Homo sapiens: one gene and its partner. The protein of the gene in region 1 interacts with the protein of each later gene in a pairwise test. Each region holds a gene or a part of one and is shown in the gene's direction. Other genes may lie near its edges.

Region 1 (7,028 bases):
CTCTTTCTTTGTTTTTGTCCATATTGGTAGACTTGTATCATTTTATTGATTTGTTTCCCAGAGAACCAGACTTTTGTTGGATATTCCCTGTTGTCTTCCTGTTTTCAGTGTCATTGATTTCTACCCTCGTGTTTATTGTTTCCTTCTGTCTGCTTGCTTTGGGTTTATTTTGCTCTTCTTTTCTAGTTCCTTGAGGGAAGAACTTACTGACTTGAGACCTTTCCCTGTTACTAGTAAGCATTTAGTTCTATCAGTTTCCCTCTCTGCACTGCTTTAGCTATTTCTGACGTATTTTGGTATGTTGTATCTTCGTTGTCATTCACGTCTATGTATTTTTTGGTTTCGTTTGAGGCTTCCTCTTTAGCCCACCCCTACTTAGAATTGTGCTGTTCAATTTTGCTGTGTTTAGAGATTTTCTGTTGTCTCCCTATTACAGATTTCTAGTTTGATTCAATTATGGTTAAAGAACACACACTGTATGGTTTTGATTATTTTAAGGCTCTTGAGGTTTGTTTTATTACTCGGGATATGGACTGTCTTGATGGATATTCCATGGGTGCATGAAACGTGTATACCACTACGGTTGTGTGGAGTGTTCTTTGTATGGCAATTGCATCATGTTGATTAATTGAGTTATTCAGCTCTTCTGTTTCCATGCTGATTTTCTGTCTAGCAGTTCTATCACTTGATGAGAGGGGCATGGAAGTCCCCAGCTGTAATTGTGGATTTGTCTATTTCTCCTTCCAACACTGTCAGTTTTTCTTGATTTCTTCTGGGCCTCTTGTTTGATACTCACATGTATATTAGGGTCTTTGTGTCTCCCTAGTGGATTGATCTTTTTATCATAATGTAATACCTCTCTTTCTAATAATTTTCCTTGCTCTGGAGTATACTTTATTGTATATTACTGTGACCAGACCTGCTTTTAAAAATTGTTTGGACTTTTTCCATCCTTTTACTTTCAAACTATTGATGTTATTGAATTTGAAGTGAGTTTCTTGGAAACAGCCTATAGCTGGGTCATGTTTCTTTACCCACACTACTGATGTTTCTTTTGATTGGTGTATTTAGACCACTTACATAAAAGGTGATTATTGGTATGGTAGAGCTTAAGTCTACCATTTGATTATTTGGTTTCTTTATGTTTCTTCTGGTTCTTGTTCCTCTGTTTCTTTTTTCTTGCCTTGCTGTGGATTACTTGAATATATTTTAGGATACTGTTTTATTTATAGTACCTTTGGGTGTATTTGTATAGTTTTTATGATGGTTGATGTGAGTATTACAATATATATATGTGACTTATAGTCGATTGGTAACAACATTTATTACTTTGAGTCACCTTACTTTTATTTAGGTCACTTTACCTTTTTCATTTTTAAATATTGTTGTCTTAAATATCAGACAGTATTATGATTTTTGTTTTAATCATCAAGTATGATTTGTAACACTGATTAATAATGATGCTTGAGGAGAAGCATAATTTATTATATGTAGCCCAAATTTCTACTCTATTATTCTTCCCTCCTTCCTGATGCTTCAAGATTCCTTCTTTTATTATTTCCTTTCTATTTGAAGAAATTCCTTTAGCCAGTCTCAGGGTATGTCTGCTAGTGACACATTCTTTTGGTTTCCATTTGTGTGAGACTACCTCTGTTTTTAGATTTAGTTTCCCAATTTTTTTTTTTAATTTTTTTTGGAGACAGTGTCTTGCTCTGTCACCCAGGCTGGAGTACAATGGTGCAATCTCTGCTCACTGCAACCTCCGCCTCTTGGGTTCAAGCAATTCTTGTGCTCAGCCTCCTGTGTAGCTGGAACTACAGGCGCATGCCACCACACCCTGCTAATGTTTTGTATTTTAGTAGAGACGGGGTTTCACCACGTTGGCCAGGCTGGTCTCGAACTTCTGAGCTCAGAAAATCCACCCACTTTGGCCTCCCCAAGTGCTGAGATTACAGGCATGAGCCACCATGCCCAGCCCTAGTTTGCTAATATTTTACTTAGGATCTTCTATACTCACTACTGAGGTTGGCCATTAATTTCCCCTTCTTACCCTGTCCTTGTCCTGTCTTGATACCAAAGTTAGAATGAGCTGAAGAGCTTGTCCTCTCTTTTCTCTGGAACAGTGTATGTAATAATAGGGATTACTTGTTCCTTGAAAGTTGTTAGAAGTTGCTTATAAGCCATCTAGACATGGTGCCATGGTGGGTTTTGTTGTGAGCGGGGTTTTTTTGTTTTGTTTTGTTTTGTTTTGTTTTTTATCAGTCTTTACAATTGATTGGGTGTGAGGGACAATGGAAAGATCATCCCACTCTTCCCCAACAGTTGGTGATTCTCTGGTCATTTTAACAGCAAGAGAGGAAACAGTAATTTTACCAGCAATATGAATGTGAAGAAGTAGTTTTCTGAAAGCAGATGATGAAAATGGGGTGGGGAACCTAATCAGGTTCTGCAGGTGCCTGCAGTAATTCAGCGTATGAGATGGATATGAGAAATTCTTAGAAGAATCTAAAATCCTTATTAAACCTGAAGGTTGAATTCATCTCCAATACTGAGCTGCTAATATAGAGCAGTAGGGAATCACTGTAGATTAACCCCTTTAGTTTCTTGCTGGCTGAAGAAAGGTCTAATGACTCGGAAGCCTTTGAAAACCAAAGCATACATCCTTCTGGAATTTCCTTTTCTGCTGAAAGAAATACTAGCAGTGGCATGTGTGTGGTCCAGCCTCTTCAGCCGCACGATTCAAACACATCATATTCTAAAAGTCAGCAAGGCCACCACAGCTAATTACAACAACCCGAACAATACTGGCTAATTTCTTGTATTGGAAGCTTTGCCAGTGATGATGAAATGAATGTCATCCATTGTATCCCTTATTTTTGATAGCTGCAAAATTCTCCAGTTGTTCACATGTGTATATTTTGGTGCAGTAGTAAGACCTTTCACAAGCTTGCGAACTCTTCCAAACAGCTTCCAGACTCTACCCAACCTTACTTAGGCCTGATATAATTCTTTCTGTGTGCTAAGACAGTGTGAGATAGTACACAGTATCTTTTAGTTGGAGAAGGCAGCCCTCTAATCCTTAAAGCTTTTATTTCTGCAAAAACAATGAATCTGCTTTTATCACTGTTCCCTTAGTCTAAAGAATTGACTCATTTGTCAGCCTGAGGGAAGCTTTCCTTTTAGGACATTCTGCTTCTATCTTTCTTTCTTTTTTTTTTTTTTTTTTTTTTTTTTGAGTCTCATCCTGTCGCCCAGGCTGGAGTGCAGTGACACAATCTTGGCTCACTGCAACCTCCGCCTCTGGGGTTCAAGCGATTCTCCAGCCTCAGCCTCCCAAGTAGCTGGGATTACAGGTGTGCGCCACCACACCTGGCTAAGTTTTCATATCTTTAGTAGAGATGGGGTTTCACCATGTTGGTCAGGCTGGTCTCGAACTCCTGACCTCATGATCCACACGCCTCATCCTCCCAAAGTGCTGGGATTACAGGCATGACATTCTGCTTCCTAAGAACTTTGTGCAAATCACCAATGGGCACTTAGGCTGAAGTCCCAACTCCAGGCCCTTCTTGGCCTCTACACAGCACAATATAAGGGGCCCCAAATTGGACTGCCGAGAAAGAAGTGTGACTTACTGCTTTTCGTTCTCTGGGGCAAGGGAGAGAACAGAGTTAGTGGAAATGCACGTATGCAGTTGGTTCAAGGAGATCTCTGTCTGACAGCACTTTTGCTCCTAGAGCCCCAACGGTAAACTGACTGATTTCCTGAGCTTCTATACGCTCCCCTCCACGGTGATGCACCACCCTGCTCACAAGAGCCTCAAAGCCGCCTACTCATTCTACAACATCCACACAGAGACGCCCCTGCTGGACCTCATGAGCGACGCGCTCATCCTGGCTAAATCGGTAAGCCACTCCTTCCTGTTCACGCCGTTTGGTTCTCCAAATGTCTGTGCCAAACTATAGAAGACATCTTACTGTGTTTTCTTCCACACAGGTGGAATTTATGCGAGACTTTAAAAAAACTATTGATCATCAGTCAAAGGAAGAATTTTGATAAGAGTTTCTTTTGAAACTTTAGAGGCTATTTTCATCATTAATTTTATGGCAGTTTAACAAAAAAGACAAAATGTACAAATTATAAATGTTTAATCCTTATATAAGAATATATAAGGCTGGGCATGGTGGCTCAGGCTTGTAATCCCAACACTTTGGGAGGCCGAGATGGGTGGATCACCTGAGGTTAGGAGTTTAAGACCAGCCTGGTTAATATGGTGAAACCTCGTCTCTACTAAAAATACAAAAGTTAGCCAGGCTTCGTGGTGTGTGCCTGTAATCCCAGCTACTCGGGAGGCTGAGGCAGGAGAATTGCTTGAACCTGGGAGGCAGAGGTTGCAATGGAGCTGAGATTGCACCACTGCACTCCAGCCTGGGTGACAGAAACTGTCTCAAAAAAAAAAAAAAAAAAAAAAAAAAAAAAAAAAATATATATATATATATATATATATATATATATATATATATATAAAGCCCATATCTTAGGAAGTAATATAAGGAAAATATTAATACATGAGTGAATATTTTTGTTGAGTGAATAACTAGCAGCAATTTTTTTATTCAACCAAATAGTCTCTGAATTTTAAAATTAAAGGAATGAAATTCAAAATTTAATTGTAGCCAGTCTACATGGTGAAACCCTGTCTCTACTAAAAATACAAAAATTAGCAGGGTGTGATAGCACACACCTGTAATCCCAGCTACTCGGGAGGCTGAGGCAAGAGGATTACTTGAACCTGGGAGTTGGCGGTTGCAGTGAGCCGAGATTGCACCATTGCATTCCAGCCTGGGCCACAGAGTGAGACCCTGTCTCAAATTAATTAATTAATTAAAATAAAATAAAATAAAAATCTCTTACCTGTGCCTTTGGATCCCCAAGTCAACATCATCCTCAGATTGTCTGCTTTTTTTCAACACTTCCCAAATATGGCCAGTAATTAGTTATTTAAGGTAAAAACCCTGAGAAATAAAAATAAAAAGTGCTTCTTCTATATCACATTTTGCATAGTATTATTGTCTGACATTTTAAAGAAATTTAATTTTTTACCATTAAAATTTTACATAAATATATTTCCCATTATCAGCCCAAAGCAAACATACTATTTTTTTATACTTTTTTTTTTTTTTTTTTTTTTGAGATGAGTCTTGCTGTGTTACCCAGGCTGGAGTGCAGTGGCACAGTCTCGGCTCACTGCAACCTCTGCTTCCCATGTTCAAGTGATTCTCTTGTCTCAGCCTCCAGAGTAGCTGGGACTATAGGTGTGTGCCACCACACCTGGCTAATTTTTGTATTTTTAGTAGAGACAGGGTTTCATCATATTGACCCGGCTGGTCTCGAACTCCTGACCTCAGGTGATCCACCTGCTGCGGCCTCCCAAAGTGCGGGGATTACAGGCGTGAGCCACCACGCCCGGCCTGCATACTATTTAAAGTCTTTACAACTTTGGTCCCTGGGCAATAGCTTCAGCCAAGGTAGGACTTAGAAAGGCTAATAATTAATAATCCTGGAGATGAAACCATCTTGACAACTGTTCCCTTCTAAAACAAGAACGAGGCTGGGTGCAGTGGCTCATGCCTGTAATCCCAGCACTTTGGAAGGCCAAGGCAGGTGGATCACTTGAGGTCGGAGTTCAAGACCAGCCTGGCCAACACGGTGAAACCCGGTCTCTACTAAAAATACAAAGAAATTAGCTGGGCATGGAGGTGCACACCTGTAATGCCAGCTACTAGGAAGTTTGAGGCAGGAGAATTGCTTAAATCTGGGAGGTGGAGGTTGCAGTGAGCCGACATCATGCCACTGTATTCCAGCCTGGATGACAGAGTGAGACTCCATCTCAAAAAAATTTAAAAATAAATAAATAAAACATAAATAAAATATTTTCTGAAATCTTCATAAGTAATTTTATGCCAGTGACAGCCATCATACTACATTTTTAACATTTTTGGGATTCAGCGTTTCTGAATTTTCATGCTGACTTCATTGGATTCACTATAGTTTGTTTGTTTTTTGAGACAGGCGCTCACTCTGTTGCTCAGGTTTAAGTGCACTGGCACAATCACAGCTCACTGCAGCCTCGACCTCTTCGGCTTATGCAATCCTGCCTCAGCCTCCTGTGTAGCTGGGTCCACAGGCACACACCACCATGCCGAGTCAATCTTTTTATTTTTGTAGAGACAATGTCCTGTACCTACACCTACACCTATACCTACAGCCTATGCCCAGGCTGGTTTCAAATTCCTGGGCTCCAGTGAGCCTCCCACCTTGGCCTCCCAAAGTGCTGGGATTACAGGCGTGAGCCACCACATCCAGCCACACTGCTAGTTTTATAAGACAATTTTCAACTGAATTCTTCCTCTTTTTAAAGAAAGAAAAAAAAAAAGTCTCACTCTGTCGCTCAGGCTGGAGTGCCGTGGCACAATCTCGGCTCACTGCCACCTCTACCTCCCAGGCTCAAGCAGTTCTCCTGCCTCAGCCTCCTGAGTAGCTGGGACTGCAGGTGTGCGCCACCACATCTGGCTTATTTTTGTTATTTTTAGTAGAGATGGGGTTTCGCCATGTTGGTCAGGCTGGTCTCGAACTCCTGACCTCAAGTGATCCACCCACCTCAGCCTACCAAAGTGCTGGGATTATAGGCATGAGCCACAGCATCCGGCCCTGAATTCTTAACCTATGCTATATATCACGGACGTTAAATCCTATTAGAAATGCATATTCGAGCTATTAGTAGAATTGTTAAACTGAGATATGTAATACAGAAAACACTAGTCCTTTGTTTTAAATTTTAAATCTTTTTTAAATTGGCAGAAAGGATTTGATGTATTCAATGCACTGGATTTGATGGAAAATAAGACATTCTTGGAAAAACTCAAGTTTGGTATAGGAGATGGCAATTTGCAGTATTACCTGTACAATTGGAGGTGTCCAGGTACAGATTCTGAAAAGGTAAGTGAAATGGATATAGCCCTTGTAAACTC
Region 2 (7,028 bases), on another chromosome or scaffold:
TAGCCAGTCATGGTGGCACATGGCCAGTAATCTCACCTACTCAGGAGGCTGAGGTACGAGAATCGCTTGAGCCCAGGAGGCAAAGGTTGCAGGGAGCCAAGATCGCAACACTGCACTCCAACCTGGGCGACAGAGTGAAACTCTGTCTAATAGAAAAGAAAAAAAGAAAATCTGTTGTGTAGTATAGCCATCCTCATCAGTTATCTTTATCTTAGTTAGATCTTCTGGATAACTTGCTCTCACTTCTGCATCAGCACTTACTGCTTTACCTTGCACTTTTATTTTATGGAGACAACTTTCCTTCAACCTCATGAGTCAGCCTCTGCCAACTCCTAACTTTTCTTCTGCAGTTTCTTCATCTCTTTCAGTCTTCGTAGAATGAAAGAGCCAGAGCCTTGCTGTGGATTAGACTTTGGCTTCAGGGGATGTTGTGGCTGGTTTGATCTTCTACCCAGACCACTCAGACTTTTTCTAAATCAGCAATAAGGCTGTTTTGCTTTCCTGTCATTTGTATGTTCACTGGAATAGTGCTTTAATTTTCTTCAAGAACTTTTATTTGGCATTCACAAGTTGGCTGACTGGCACAAAAGCCTAGCTTTTGTCCTATGTTGGTTTTTGACATGCCTTCATTACTAAGCTTAATCATTTCTAGCTTTTGATTGAAAATAAGAGATGTGTGACTCTTCCTTTTACTTGAGTAAAAGGATTGGAGTTCATTGTAGGATTATTGGCCTAATTTCAATATTATTGTGTCTCAGGGAATAGGGAGACCCAAGGAGAGGGATAGACGAGGGATTGGCTGTTCCATGGTACAGTCAGAACACATAAAACATTGATTGATGAAATTCATATTATATGGGTGCAGTTCATGGCACCCCCAAAAAATTACAATAGTAACATCAAAGATCATTTATCATAGATCCTCACAACAGAAATAACAATAATGAAAAGTTTGAAATATTGTGAGAATCCCCACAGTGTGACACAGAGACACAAAATGAACAAATGCTGTTGGGAAAATGGCACCGATAGACTTGCTTAAATATAGAGTTGCCACAAATCTTTAATTTGAAAAAAAAAATGCATTATCTGTGATGCACAGTAAAGTTAAGCACAATAAAATAAGTTATGCCTATATAAAATATTTTGAACTGAATGAAAATGAAAACACTCTTGTCAAAACTTGTGGGATGCTTGGGAGGCTGAGGCAGGAGAATCGCTTAAGCCAGGCCAGGGAGGCAGAGGTTGCAGCAAGCCAAGATTGCACCACTGCACTTCAGCCTGGGCGACAGAGCAAGACTCCGCCTCAAAAAAAAAAAAAAAAATTGCAGGATGCAGCTAAACCAGTGCTTTAAAGGAAATTAAATACTATTAGAAAAGAAGAAAGATTTCATATCAGTGATCCAAGCTTCTATCTCAAAAAAAGAAGGGCAAATTAAGCCCAAAGTAAGTGTGAAACAATAAAGATCGGAGCAGAAATCATTGAAATAGAAAATCAGAAAACAGAAAATCAGTGAAATCAAAAACTGGTTGTTTGTAAAGATCAATAAAACATAGTCCTCTAGCCAGACCAAGGAAGAAAAAAAAGAGAAGAAACAGGCTGGATGCTGTGGCTCACACCTGTAATCCCAGCACTTTGGGAGACCAGTGCAGAAGGATCACTTGAGACTAAGAGTTCGAGACCCAGCCTGGGCAACATAGCAAGACCCCATCTCTACAACAAATGTTTTAAAACATGCCAGGCATAGTTGTTTGAGCCTGTAAGTCCCAGCTACTCAGGAGGCTGAGGCAGGAGGATCACTCATGCCCAGGAGTTCCAGGATGCAGTGAGTTATGATTGTGCCACCGCACTCCAGCCTGAGTAACAAAGTGAGATGTGACACCAAAAAAAAAAACAAAAGGCAAATTACCAGTTTCAGGAATGAAAGGATATCAGTACATATCCTAAAGATATTATAAAGCAAATAAGGAAACATTATACACAATTTTATACCAATGAAATAGATAACTTAAATGAAATGGACAAATTTATTATTATTATTATTATATATTTTTTTAAGTCAGGGTCTCAGTCACCCAGGCTGGAGTGCAGTGGTGCGATCTCAGCCTGCTCACACTTCAGGCTCCACCTCCCAGGTTCAAGCGATTCTCCTGCCTCAGCCTCCGGAGTAGCTGGTATTATAGGAATGCGCCACCATGCCCGGCTAATTTTTGTAGTTTAGTACAGACAGGGTTTCACCATGTTGCCCAGGCTGGTCTCAAACTCCTGACCTCAGGCAATCTGCCTGCCTTGGCCTCCCAAAATGCTACTGCTAGGATTACAGGCAAGAGCCACCGCACCTGGCCAGGACAAATTTTTTTAAAGACACAAACTACCAAAGTTTTCTGAAAAAGAAATAGAAAGCCAGGTGTGGTGGCTCACACCTGTGATCCCAGCACTTTGGGAGGCTGGGGCGGGCGGATCACCTGAGGTCAGGAGTTCGAGATCAGCCTGGCCAACATGGTGAAACCCTGTCTCTACTACATACACAAAAATTAGCCAGATGTGGTGGTGCGCACCTGTAATCCCAGCTGCTCGGGAGCCTGAAGCAGGAGAATCACTTGAACCCGGGAGGCGGAGATTTCACTGAGCCAAGATCGTGCCACTGCACTCCAGCCTGGGCAACAGAGCCAGACTTCATCTCAAAAAAAAAAGGAAATAGAAGTGCATGCCTTTAGTCCCAGCTGGGAGGCTTGGGGAAGAGGATCACTTGGAGCCAGGAGTTCAACACTGCACTGCACTATGATCATGCTTGTGAATAGCCACTACATCTAGCTAGGGCAACATAGCCTGACTCCATCTTAAAAAAAAACAAAAATAAAAAATAGAAAATCTGGATAGCTCTATATTTATAAAAGAGATTGAATTTGTAGCTAGAAACTTTCCCACAAGATTTCCAGGCCTTGATTACTTCACTGGTGAATTCTACTGAGTATTTAAGGATGAAATTGGCCAGGCACAGTGGCTCATGCCTATAATCCTAGCACTTTGAGAGGTGAGGCAGCCAGATCACCTGAGGTCAGGAGTTTGAGACTAGCCTGGCCAATGTGGCAAAACCCCGTCTCTACTAAAAATACAAAAATTAGCTGGGTGTGGTGGTGGGTGCCTGTAATCTCAGCTACTCAGGAGGCTGAGGTAGGAGAATTGCTTGAACCCAGGAGGTAGAGGTTGCAGTGAGCCAAGATCATGCCATTTGCACCATTGCACTCCAGCCTGGGCAACAGAGTGAGACTTTGTCTCAAAAAAAAAAAAAAAAAAAAAATTCTACACACAAACACTTCCAGAAAATAGAAGGGGAGGGAGCACTGCCCAGCTCATTCTGTGAAACCAGAATTACCCTGATAACCAAATCCAGACAAAGACCTTAGAGGAAAAGAAAACAACAGGCCAGTATTCCTTATGAACATAGATGCAAAAATGTTTAATAAGATGTTAGCAAATTGAACCTAGTAAATACAAAAAGGTTAATAAATTTTGTGCAAGTGTGTTTATCCTAGGAATGCAAGGTTTGTTTGGCAATTGAGAACCATAGTATTTCACCATATGAACAGATCAAAAAAGCAAAATGTGATTTTATCAATTTATGTAGAAAAGGCTGACAAAATTCAACTTCCCTTCATGATTAAAACAACAACAACAACAAAAACTCACAACAAAATAGAAATAGGAAATAGTAGGGAATTTCTTTAGCCTGAGAAAATCGACAGTTAATATCGTCCTTGATGATGAAAGGCTGAACACTTTCCCTCTAAGACTGTGGACAAAGATATCCACTCTCTCCACTTTGATCCAACATTGTATTAAAAGTTCTAGCCAATGCATTAAGGCAAGAAAAAGAAATGAAAGCCACATAGATTTAAAAAGAAGAAATAAAACTTCCTTTTCTCGTAGGTGATGTGTCCATCTATGTATAAGACCCCAAGAATCTATTAAAAAAAAAAAACCTAGAATAAGTGAGTTCACCAAGTTCACAGGATGTAAAATCAATATACAAACATGAAAAGTATTCCTATATACTAGTAATGAACAATTGAAAATTAAAATTCGAAAACACCAGGGATAGTATACAAATCTTAATTGTTTTTCTTTATGCTTACAGTAAATTGAATTTTTAAAAGATATTATTTGCAGTAGCCTCAAAAACATGAAATTCTTAGGGATACATCAAACAAAATAAGAGTAAGATTTGTATGTGTATAATTCCTAAATATTATCGAAATTAAGGAAAATTTAAATGGAAAGAGATACCATTGTTCATGGATCAAAAGACTCAGTATTGTTCAGCTGTCCATTCTTTCCAAATTGATTCATAGATTCAGCGGGGTCCCAATCAGAATCCCAGCAGGATCTTTGTAAAAACTTATAAGTTGATTCTAAAATTTATATGGAAAAGCAAAGGACCTAGAATAATCAAAACAACTTTGAAAAAGAATAAAGTTGGAGGCCCCACACTGGTTTCAGGACTTACTATAAAGTACAGAAATCAAGCCAATGTTGTATTGGTATAAGAATAGGTATATAGATCAAAGGAACATGATAGATAACCTAGAAATAGATCCAATCACAAATGGTCAGCTGATTTTTGACAAAAATGCCAACATAAAATTCAGTGGAGGGAAGACTAGCCTTTTCAACGTATAGAGCTGTAACAATTGGACATCAAAATGCAAAACAAAACAAAAAGGTGAGCCTGAAGCCTACTCAAAAATTAACTGGGAAGGTAAGATCTTAGATGTATATGTAAGAGGAATAATGATAAAGAACTAGAAGAATATCTTTGTGATCTTGGTGTAGGCAAAGTTTTTTTTAGATGGAACACAAGCACAAACTATAAAAGAAAAAATAAATTGCACTTTATCAAAATTTAAAAATTCCACTCTTCAAGATACTCTTAAAAAAAATGAGAAGTCATATACTGGGAGAAAATATTTATAAAACATATATTTGGAAAAAAAAATTTTGTGTCCACAACATATAAAGACCTCTTATAAGAAAATGACAACCTTATTAACAAATGAACAAAAGATTTGAACAGATAAATCACCAAAGATAGATAGTTGGCAGATAAGCACATGAGAAATGTTCATTGTTAGACATTAGGGAAGTACAGATTAGAAATCACAATGAAAAGCCACCATAGACCTAACTAGAATGGCTAAAAAATATTTTTAATAATAGTAAAGTGCTGGTAAGGGTGCAAAGGAACTGGAATTTATACTTATTGGTGTGAGTGAAAACTTTAGAAAAGTTTGGTAGTTTCCTGGAAAGTTAAACATTCACTTGCCATATGACTCAGCAATTCTACTTCTAGATATTTACCCACAAGCTGTGAAAACATAAAACAGGACAACACAAAGACCTTTACCCAACTGTTCGTAAGATCCCTGTTCATAATGCCAAAAATTGGAAGCAGCCCAGATGACTGCATACATGCATACAGTAGAATACTACTCAGCAATCAAAAGGAAAGAACTGATACTTGAAGCAATGTGGATGGATCACAAAAGCAACATGCTAAGTGAAAGAGACCAGATACAAAAGACTATGCTATATGATTTCTATTTCTGGAAAAAGACAAAACTATAGGGACAGAAATCAGATCGGTGCTTGCCAAATTATGCCACTCCACTCCTCATAAATGCCTGTGGATCACTTGACAAAACTCAGACTTCTTAGTGTGACCGATTCAAGGCCCTAGATAACTTGACTTCAATCCAACCTCTGTACTTTCAACTCTTTGTACTGCTTCCCTGAGCCAGCAGAGACAGTTCTCCAGCATTCCTTGTCATGCCTCTCCTAGTGGTATTTTCGCATTCTGCAATGCCTTTCCTTCTCAGAAATTTTGCTCGATCCTTCAAAGCTCATCTTACATCTTACTACCAATTTGTAGTGTTTCCTGATCCCTCAGTCTCCTCCTTCCTCCCTGCCTTTGCAGTGTATGTATTTCTGCCACATTTCTTATTCATTCTTTTGTGTTAGAATTGGTTGTTTACATATTTACAATCCATTCTGAATAGCAGGAATCTTACCTGTATTCCTGACTGGACTGGTACAGTATGTGCTCAATAAAATGGCTATAGGGCCGGGTGCAGTGGTGTATGCCTGTAATCCCAGCACTTTGGGAGGCCAAGGCGGGAGGATTGCCTGAGCCTAGTAGTTTGAGACCAGCCTGGGCAACAAAGTGAGACTCCCAAAGTGAGAGCCAAGCATGGTAGCACACACCTATATAGTTATAACTACTCAGGAAGCTGAGGTGGGAGGATTTGCTTGAGCCCAGAAGGTCAAGGCTGCAGTGAGCCATGATCTCGCCACTGCACTCCAGGTTGGGAGACAGAGCCAGACCCTGTCTCAAAAAGTCCGTGAAATTCAGCTCCATACCCTTTCTCTTGAAACAAATGAGCAACAACAACAACAAAAACCCACACACTGTGTTGTGTGATAATCATGCTGCAAAAGAGTATATAAAATGTATATGAAGAATTTAAACAAAGCTTTTAAAAATTTACCCACTACTTAGCTTAAGAAATAGAACATCACCAATATCTTTGAACCTCCTGTGCATGCCTCTCAATCATATGGCCTTCCCTAGTGGTAATCTTTGAGAGATTACCACTATCCCAAATTTTATATTAATTAATGATTTCCTTTGTAGTTTCAGTACATATTTGTATGTCTGAATCATATTCTTTAGTTTTACCGGTTTGCAAAATTTTGTTTAAATGAAATGATATCATATGTATTCTTCTCACTTGTTTTTTTCCCTTCAACATTATGTTTTGGAGATAAACCCATGTTGTGTGAAGCTATAGTTCATTAGTTTCCAGTGTTCTACAGGATTTCATTGTACAAGTGATCAATACTTTATTTATATGTTACCATTAATGAGCGTTTGGGCTGTTTACATTTGGGGTCTGCTGTGTACATGCTTGCAAATATCTCCTGGAGAACATATGCAAAAGTATATAACTAGAAGTAGAATTACTAGGTT

What was found. The genes of interacting proteins can lie anywhere in the genome.
Region 2: the proteins of NMT2 (region 1) and ACBD6 interact in binary tests that used the Homo sapiens proteins (3 or more experiments, as listed by UniProt).

The regions. Positions count from the first base shown.
Region 1 is NC_000010.11:15,109,670-15,116,697, reverse strand, and holds part of NMT2 (glycylpeptide N-tetradecanoyltransferase 2), read left to right. Parts: intron 1-3,734; coding exon 3,735-3,902; intron 3,903-4,911; exon of another isoform or gene 4,912-5,170; intron 5,171-6,858; coding exon 6,859-6,996; intron 6,997-7,028.
Region 2 is NC_000001.11:180,289,569-180,296,596, reverse strand, and holds part of ACBD6 (acyl-CoA-binding domain-containing protein 6), read left to right. Parts: intron 1-7,028. UniProt on the Homo sapiens protein: Binds long-chain acyl-coenzyme A molecules with a strong preference for unsaturated C18:1-CoA, lower affinity for unsaturated C20:4-CoA, and very weak affinity for saturated C16:0-CoA. Does not bind fatty acids. Plays a role in protein N-myristoylation.